Homo sapiens: one gene and its partner. The protein of the gene in region 1 binds, or shares a complex with, the protein of each later gene. Each region holds a gene or a part of one and is shown in the gene's direction. Other genes may lie near its edges.

Region 1 (5,013 bases):
GACCTGTGTTTATTTGTAACCTCTGTAATTTTATCACATTTATATATATACTGAGTATTTCACAATAATCAACATTTTGATGAAAAATTGAGTGAAGGAACATAATATTTTAAAGCAGTCTTAAGAAGTACTATCATGTCTCTATTGTTGCTATTATGGAAGTTAGATTACTTCATAACAACATGAATTGACATTCTAGCTGAGTAACCTGTCTTAGGAAATTGACAACAGAAACTTGTGAGGTCAAGTTACACAGAAAGATGGTTAGGTGAATAGAAGTGCTAGCCACAGAAGTATACACTATACAGGAAGAGTATATTCACTGTGAGATGACCCAGGAAGAAAAACTGTTAGTTAATATAATTAGGTCAGCTGGTCCATTGGGTAGAATAATATGTTATCCAGGCAGTTGAAAAAATAGATCATCAATAACTAGATCATCAGTAGGAATAGGAGAGGAACAGACAGGAAAACAAATACTACTTTTGTCAAAGACCCTTATATTTGAAGCAGCTTCCTGCCTCTGTATTGAGGTTACACTAATGAAAACACCAGACTAGACTGAAATATGTGGGAGCAAGGCAGTTACTGACAGTTGATACCTTAATACTTATTCCCATTATTTTTCTGTTTGACATAGGTGATGCTCATGCTTTTGATGAGGAGTGGCAAAGTGAGGTTTTGAAGTACAAACCAGGACGACACAATCTAGGAAACACTAGAATGAGAAGTGTTGGCCATGAGAATCCTGGCTCCCGAGAACTTAAAAGAAGGTAAAAGTTGTTTCTAAAATAGTTTGGTTTTTTAAGAAGAATTTGAAGTAAAGTTATGTAATTTACTTCTGTTATCAGAAAGTTTTGATGATCATCCAAATTGTATCCACAGTATCTTTTGTGAAAGATGTAATAATTTTATATGAAAGCTGATTATTCCACACAAATTTAAATTTATATCTAAAAATCAATAATAGTTTAGGATTTTATGGTTAGTAATTCACTAGTAAACTATGCCTCAGAAGACAGAGACCAAAATCCTCTTAAGGAAAACTGATATCCTGTAGTGTAGTTATTCTTGTAAAACACATTGTAATATGGATATAGATAGAGTCATACATTTCACACTGGTAAAGATATCTAGAGATATGATAAGGGGAGAGGGGCTCTATTTGGAAGACTTAACAACTTTCTTAACAAATCAAAATTTAGCATTTAATAGTAAATTTCAGACACTTGTATAATATGTAACAGTACATGCAATACCATATTCGATGTGTATTAGATATTTTGGAAGAATTTTGCAAGAACATTAGCTTCTTTTAGAATTCCCTTTTAGAATAGCTGAGAAAAATAAATTTGCTGAAACCACATATTAAAGATTATAGAGATTTCTGTCTGGACATGGTGGCTCATACCTGTAATCCCAGCACTTCCGGAGGCCGAGGCAGGTGGATCAGTTGCGGTCAGGAGTTCGATACCAGCCTGGCCAACATGGTGAAACCCCGTCTCTACTAAAAATACAAAAATTAGCTAGGTGTGGTAGCACACACCCTGTAATCCCAGCTACTTGGGAGGCTAAGGCAGGAGAATTGCTTGAACCTGGGAGGCAGAGGTTGTGGTGAGCCAAAATCACACCACTGCACTACAGCCTGAGTGACAGAGCAAGACTCCATCTCAAAAATAAATAAATAAATATTATAGAGTTTTTAAATACATTTTGTACATACTCTGGAGCTACAGTTTAATGTGGTTCTCAGAGGAATAAATGGATAATAATATCTAATTCCTATGAAGTTACACTCAAAGGCCTCACCAGACCTTAAATAGAAATCTGTTCTAAGCTATAAGAAAGTGGAAAATTGCTACAGAAGGTGGAAGCCTTCACAGAACTAGCAGTGGACAAGTGAGTATCAAGTAAATCAGAAGCCTTATGCAGAATTTCATATGCTAGGATCTTTTCTTCTAAAATACTTGTTTAGGAATTTAGAGCCCTAGTATTTTCTATTGAATTGCTTGAAAACTTGCTCCCATATTCATTATAGATATTTGTCTCATTTGAAAAATGTATTGATTAAAAACCTGGCAGTGCCAAGTTTGAATAGGAAATCCAGGTCGCACTTAGAGAAGGCATGCTCTTTATGGATGACCTATAAATTTCTGGCCCTAACAGTGGCATTTTCTCTTAACCGGCACTGTCCAATGGCATTTTCTGAAATGACTTCGGTAATGACAAAAATGCTATATATCTATTCTGTCCAGTGTAGTAATCACTAGCCACATGTGGCTGTTGATTCACATTTGAAGCATTGCTGGTACAACTGAAGAACTGAATTATTTTATTTTAATTCAAATATAAATGTGGTTAGTGACTACCATACTGTTAACATTAAACAGTGTTTAAACTATAAACAGTTAAATCTAACAGGAAAACAGCTGTTGCTGTCTTAAATTCACTGAAATAGTCTGCCTTATTTTCTGGTTTTTTTTGTTTTTTATTTTTTGTTTTAGGGCAGGGGGTACAGAGTCTGGCTCTGTCGCCAGGCTGGAGTGCAGTGGCGCGATCTCAACTCACTGCAACCTCCACCTCCCAGGTTCAGGCAATCCTCCTGCTTCAGCCTCCTGAGTAGCTGGGACTACAGGCGCGCATCACCACGCCCAGCTAATCTTTGTATTTTTAGTAGAGATGGGGTTTCATCATGTTGGCCAGGATGGTCTCGATCTCTTAACTTGTGATCTGCCTGCCTCAGCCTCCCAAAGTGCCGGGATTACAGGCATGAGCCACCGCACCTGGCCAGCCTTGTTTTTCAAAGCCATTAAGGAATTTTTAAGATAAAACTTTTCTTATATTACAGTGGTTTTTAACATGTTTGTATTGATTTATAAACCATTGGCCATTTTTTAAATGATATTAATATTCACATGTATATTTCTCAGGGAGAAACCTCAACAAAGTCCAGCCATTGAACATGGAAGGAGATCAAATGTTTTGGGGGACAAACTCCACATCAAAGGCTCATCTGTGAAAAGCAACAAAAAATAAATAGCCATGCATTTGATTTGTTTAGTTTTGATTGTTTTAACAGTTAGTAATGGTGCTGGGTAATAAGCATAAGACCAATCTCTTGCTGTTAAATCAGTTCTGTCCTTGGCAACTTTCTTCTGATATCTGAATGTTCATGAAGGTCCTAGCTTTATATTGTCCCTCTTTTAGGAATAAAATTTTGATTTTCAACAATGTGAGTAAATTGAGTCTATTTAATGTAAAACTCTTTAAAACATACTAATTTTTTAAAGCTTATATGCTTATTTCGCTTCCCCAGTTGTTTTTGTGTTGGCTAAATATTCTTTTATATTTATCAAGATTGATTGCAGAGCAGTTCTATCACTTATAATTAGTTATAAGAAATTATAATGTTAAAAAAGTCTCAGTTTTTACTAACACTGTACTAGGGTGATATTAATAAAGGTTTAAATAATTTATCTCTAATTTTATAATGTGTTGTAAAGCCAACTAGCTTAAAACTTTAAAAATAATAAAGCAAAACTACACTAGTACTCTTTTATGAGAAAATAGTTACTATTTTGATAAAGGGCAAGGATAATCAAATAGTTCATTTTCAGAGAAAAATATTTTAAATTGCTAATGTACATGATTGTTTTGGTTATAATTTATTTATAGAATGTATCTTTTCTATATTACATTCTTAATATTCACCAGATATTATATTGACCATTCTCTTTAACTTCTTAATGTGGCATATTTCTACTCTCCTTTCCCACAAACAGCTTCATCTGTCTCCAAGGTTAACATTCTGAAGCTGGAGAGTCCTTGGAGAAACTCTGCTCAGCTTTTTTGTGACATTTAGAAAAATGCATTTGGTATTCTCCAAACCAGAATGATACATTGTCTCAAAATCTGTTAGACAGCTGATGGGTGTTTTTGAGCAACGTCTTAATAATTCAGTTGTTTCTGTTTTAATTATACCATTAAAAATCAGCTTTAGCTTTTTAATTCTAGAATTTAAGCATCAGTCTGTTCTTATAAAAGTTAGGTTTGAAGTTTATAAGAATATAAAATCTTAACTCACATTTGTTGTTTAATATTTCTGTCAAGGAAAAAAGCCCCCAAAAATTGCTATCACTCTATAATCCTAAGTATTTTTCTTTTCAATTTTGTAAGTAAAATTATATGACTATGTTCATACTTCTCTAATTTTTTATATAATATTTTTGTTAATTTTACTAGTTTGTGTTTTATGCCTTTAGTCATTAAAATAAAATGCAAATGTGTTAATTCATTGTTGAAATTGAGCATGTATTAGTTAAAAATTTCCTTTTAGGCATACTTTAGTATACTCCTAACATACCATAACACATTGGGAAATTGTCATAAGGCACACATTTTAAATAACATCTTGATATAAATTAACCTGATAGAGCAAAGTCTTAATAAAGTACATACTTGATTTTCCTTTTGCCTAAATCATTACACTGATGATAACTTGAATCATTGTAGTCAAATCTAAAAACACCCTTTAATAAATAATTGTGTTTAACAGTATAATTCCTGTACATCAGATTGCAGTTAGAGATTGTGGTGAGGCAGAATTTGAGATGGTAGTACCGAGAAAAGTTCTGTTTCTTTCTTAAAAGTCAACTCTATCTTTGCACCATAAAAACATAACTATCGATATCTATACCCCAGAATAATATTTGTTTGCAACAACTTCTTATGATGGGTGTTTAATACTGTTAGTCTGTAAATTGAAACTATTTAAAACTATATACATGCCGGGCGCAGTGGCTCATGCCTGTAATCCCAGCACTTTGGGAGGCTGCGGCAAGTGGATTGCTTGAGGTCACTTCAAGACCAGCCTGACCAACATGGCAAAACCCTGTCTCTACTAAATATACAAAAATTCAGCGGGTGTGGTGGCGGGCACCTATAATCCCAGCTACTCAGGAGGCTGAGGCAGGAGAATTGCTGGAACCTGGGAGGCGGAGGTTGCAGTGAGCC
Region 2 (4,686 bases), on another chromosome or scaffold:
GTCTTTTAATTTTAGAATATGTTAATGTCTGTCCCAGCATGTTGGAACATAATTTCTTTAAAGGGAGGGATCATTGCTTTTTCTCAAGTGATTTTAGTCTCTTCACCCTGTGGTAAGAGGATTGTTTCATATACGAATCCATAGGTAGGAAATACATGTTCTCCCTGCCTGTTCCCCTCTCTCCAAAATGTAGATACACTGGGCAAAGAAACATAGCCAAGGAATCCTTTTTCCCCTAATATCTGTATGTCTTTCAAGAGGATATTACTTCCTTCTCAGAGTAGAAGGGAGGAGGAGTAGACAGATTGTTGCTTAGAGTGAAGTTTACACGAAGTAAGACCAAAGTCCGGCTCCTGTATCATTGTTTTCCTTTGTCCTGCTCTGTTGGTTTATTTTTCTTGTAATGTTGCTTTCATATGATTGTTCTCCCTCCCTTTTTCCTTGCAATATAGATTCCTAAAGGAAAACCCAACTCTTCCTTTCCTAAAAACTCTACTTTGTAAGTCACGTTCATGGCACAGTGAATTCCGCTTTCAGTTTTGGTTCTTCACTAATCATGCCTGCGTATGATCGTCCTGTTGCTTACAGACTCTGCCTGTTCCACCTTCCAGGGCGCTGACCTAAGCCTTTTCCGGCCTGCTCCTCCTGCCTACTGTGGTTGGATGTGATGTATATGACAGTGACATTTTTATGCCAAAGTTACTTGGAACTTCTGGCACATCTCATGGTTGCTTACAAGCGAGTTGTGTTCTAGTGTTTGTGTTAATGATACTTTGGCAGTGATTTGCTGTTAGAGTGAATGTTCCTATCATGTTTCCTACGTTTGAATACGTTATTGTCCTTTGGAGAACAGTTGGGTGCCCATCAGTTCTTTCATCCCTAAGCAATTTTTTTTTGCCTTTGCATATTTTTTTTCTGTCTTATGAATTAAAGATCTTCATGTATTTTAAGTAGTTTTAAAATTTTATACATTTTTTTGAGACGGAGTTTTGCTCTTGTTGCCCCGCCTGGAGTGCAGTGGCGTTCAAAGCTCACTGCAGAAATAGAACTCCCCCACCTCAGCCCCCCAAGTAGCTGGGACTATAGACATGTGGCCCCATGCCCAGCGTATGTAGTTTTTTTTTTTTTTGAGACGGAGTCTCGATTGTCGCCCAGGCTGGAGTGCAGCGGCAGAATCTTGGCTCACTGAAAGCTCCGCCTCCTGGGTTCACGCCATTCTCCTGCCTCCCGAGTAGCTGGGACTACAGGCGCCTGCCACCATGCCTGGCTAATTTTTTTTTTTTTTTTTTGTATTTTTAGTAGAGACAGGGTTTCACTGTGTTAGCCAGGATGGTCTCGATCTCCTGACCTCATGATCCACCTCTCTTGGCCTCCCAAAGTGCTGGTATTACAGGCGTGAGCCACCATGCCTGGCTCCAGCATACATAGTTTTTTACTTTTAGTTTTATTTATTCTTTTTTTTTTTTTTTTGAGACGGAGTCTCACTCTGTTACCCAGGCTGGAGTGTAGTGGCATGTTCTTGGCTCGCTGCAACCTCCGTCTCCTGGGTTCAAGCAATTCTCATGCCTCAGCTTCCCAGGTAGCTGGGATTACAGGCATGTGCCACCACGCCAGGCTAATTTTTTGTATTATTTTTTCAGTAGAGATGGGGATTTACTGTGTTAGCCAGGATGGTCTTGATCTTCTGACCTCGTGATCCGCCCGCCTTTGCTTCCCAAAGTGCTGGGATTACAGGCGTGAGCCACCGTGCCCGGCGTTATGTTCATTTTTTGTAGAGACAGGGCTTCACTGTGTTGCTGAGGCTGTAAGTGGGTTTTGAAGTCACACAGCAATGTCAAGCGTTTCCGCCGCAGAAGAGATTTGAAAACTACTGAAACCTTGATGCTGTGACATTTGTCATTTTGAGATCATTTAGGCTGTTTCAAAGCTGTACTCAGTGTAAATGCTTCATGTGTGTAGGCAGCTAGTTTGGTGTTATTTGTCCATCCTAATTAAATAATTTAACAAGCATTATGAATGGATAGTCATTTGAACATTTATGATTCTTGGGTTGATTTTTCATTTATTTTGTTTCAAACTAGTTAACTGTGTAGTAATTGTAAGTGGTTTTTTTAAAAAAGTACAAGTGAATGTAACTTTTACCTGTTACATCATTTTTAAGGGAAAAGCCTGCATGCTTCTTTATTTTGGCTGACTTGTTTAATGCATACTAATAGGTAGATGACCCTCCAACCAATAGGTGGCTTTCTGTTGCATGTCATAGTGCAGTTGAAACTCCTTAGGGTAATCACCCTCTTTAAAGGCAAAAGACAAATAGCATGAGTGAAGTGGTCCAAATGCCATTCTTTAATAACCTCAGTGGTCTGATTTACTTTGAGCATGCTGTGTTTCACTCTGAAGTAAAATCTGATTATAGTTTGGTGTATCTGGCCAAGATACAAAAGCTGAAATATTTATAACAGCAGAACCCCACAATAAAATACGATAGAACTTCTTGGCAACAGTTTATTGCTCAGTTAACTATTTTGAAGCATTTCTGATAATTAGCTTGTGGGTAAATTAGATTTTGCAAAAAGTTTGCAAAATACTCTTGATTCTTGAAGAGGTGAGGTTATTGAGAAAGAGTATTTTGACCCAAGATTTATGTGAAAGCTTGAATGTCATTTTAGTAAGATGGTTTCCTTGGCTGTCTACGTCAAGAGCTTATTTAGCGTAAAAACATTGAGTTGTACTGCGCATCAGTTTTTTTCATTCTGTTGACCAATAAATACTTTCAGGACCATAATCCCTTCTTGGCTTAGGCATCTCAGGTGTCAAGGATGATAGAAGTCCTTTGCCTGCGTTTAATACCAATTGTAGCAAGTAGAAGAGTCTTTATGCTTGGAATGACACCTTTGTTTGTGGCTGCCATAGCCTAATGTAGTCAATACGAAATAATTGACTTTTTTTCTTTTTTAACAGGTGAAGAGCAGAATAAAGAAGCGCTGCAGGACGTGGAAGACGAAAATCAGTGAGACATAAGCCAACAAGAGAAACCATCTCTGACCACCCCCTCCTCCCCATCCCACCCTTTGGAAACTCCCCATTGTCACTGAGAACCACCAAATCTGACTTTTACATTTGGTCTCAGAATTTAGGTTCCTGCCCTGTTGGTTTTTTTTTTTTTTTTTTAAACAGTTTTCAAAAGTTCTTAAAGGCAAGAGTGAATTTCTGTGGATTTTACTGGTCCCAGCTTTTAGGTTCTTTAAGACACTAACAGGACTACATAGAGGCTTTTTCAGCATTACTGTGTCGTCTCCGTGCCAGATGTGGCAAGATCACCATTAGCAAATGGAAATTACATTTGAAAGCCATTAGACTTATAGGTGATGCAAGCATCTAAGAGAGAGGTTAATCACACTATAGAGGCATAAGTGGTATCAGTTTTCATTTTTCTAATTGTTTAAACTGTGTTTTATACCAGTGTTTGCAAGTAATTGGGTGTTAGCTTGAGATGGTTAAAGGTGGTTTGGGGAGGGACTTCGTTGTAATGGTTTTGCTGTAAAAAATGTTTCCAACTCCGCTGAAATGTTGCTGAAAAGCATGGTGCTGGTAACAGTTCAACAATCCGTGGCTGCTCATTCTTGCCTACTTTACTCTCCCACTGAAGCAGGTTAGCGTTGAAGGTGGTATGGAAAAGCCTGCATGCCTGTTCAATTCTTTTGTTTCTTCTCCTTCCCCCTCCCCCTACCTCCTTCCCCTCACTCCTCCCCTCCTTCGCTCGCTCAACCTCTTTTGTTCAGTATGTGTAACTTGAAGCTAATTTGTACTACTGGATATCTGACTGGAGCCACAGATACAGAATCTGTATTGTTCTTACTGAAACACAGCATGGAATTAACATTAAACTTAAATAAAACAAACCTAAATTAAAAATGCCAAATATCGCGCCTCCATCCTTTATACTTCTAAAATAAAATCTCTAGTCCAAACACACTGACAGTATTATGTTTGCCTGAATGTGAAACATTCCTCCTTTTTTCTTCCATAAATAATTTGTTTGCTTCCCAAAGATGTATGTTTTGGAAAAAAATTGCCTGTAGTCTGGTTGTGAAGAACACTGAGTCAGTTGATGGTGTGTCTTGTCCTCCAGACCAGGCAGCAACATGGTATTTATTTTAATCATTAAAGTACAACATGAGTAGTACAAGGTGTAATTATGGATCATTTTCTAGCATAGTATTTCATACAACCAAATAAGGCTGAATGTCTTATAATAATTCTTAGAGGTAAAAACTGTGTGCCCTCTTCCTCCAGAGGCTAGTGGCAGTAGTGGAGAATTACTCAATCCTTTCTTAGTAATCCATACACACATTATAGACAGCAGGATAGCAGTCTCCCTTTCCAGAAACACTGTATAAGAAGCTTCTTTCCATAAACAGTTTATACATCAATGTGTATAGATACCTAGTTACTGTAGATCTTTTTATGTTAGGCATTCAGATGTGTCTCATTCTGACTGCGTAACATTGATGTACACCTGATTTTGTTAAGACCAGTTTGCTCCTTTTGGGCAGGTGCTGCAGGAAATACCCTTGGAACAGTTTTTGCTTAAATATTTGTATGTATCTGGAAGGTACATTTCTAGATTCCCTGTGTCAGTAAACATTTTTCAGTTGATAAATCCTTCCTCGTCACACTTGTCTT

Evidence for each region.
Region 2: the proteins of MLF1 (region 1) and YWHAE are in contact, whole or in part, in a crystal structure (PDB 3UBW), measured with the Homo sapiens proteins. Residues at the interface, in NP_071888.1 of Homo sapiens: Arg31, Ser32, Phe33, Ser34, Glu35, Pro36, Phe37; in NP_006752.1 of Homo sapiens: Lys50, Asn51, Arg57, Arg61, Lys123, Arg130, Tyr131, Glu134, Pro168, Gly172, Leu175, Asn176, Val179, Tyr182, Glu183, Leu219, Ile220, Leu223, Asp226, Asn227, Leu230, Trp231.

The regions. Positions count from the first base shown.
Region 1 is NC_000003.12:158,602,167-158,607,179, forward strand, and holds the end of MLF1 (myeloid leukemia factor 1), read left to right. Parts: intron 1-640; coding exon 641-773; intron 774-2,930; coding exon 2,931-3,036; 3' UTR 3,037-3,782; coding exon of another isoform or gene 3,783-3,804; 3' UTR 3,805-4,290; downstream 4,291-5,013. UniProt on the Homo sapiens protein: Involved in lineage commitment of primary hemopoietic progenitors by restricting erythroid formation and enhancing myeloid formation.
Region 2 is NC_000017.11:1,343,775-1,348,460, reverse strand, and holds the end of YWHAE (14-3-3 protein epsilon), read left to right. Parts: intron 1-2,961; coding exon 2,962-3,014; 3' UTR 3,015-4,186; downstream 4,187-4,686. UniProt on the Homo sapiens protein: Adapter protein implicated in the regulation of a large spectrum of both general and specialized signaling pathways. Binds to a large number of partners, usually by recognition of a phosphoserine or phosphothreonine motif.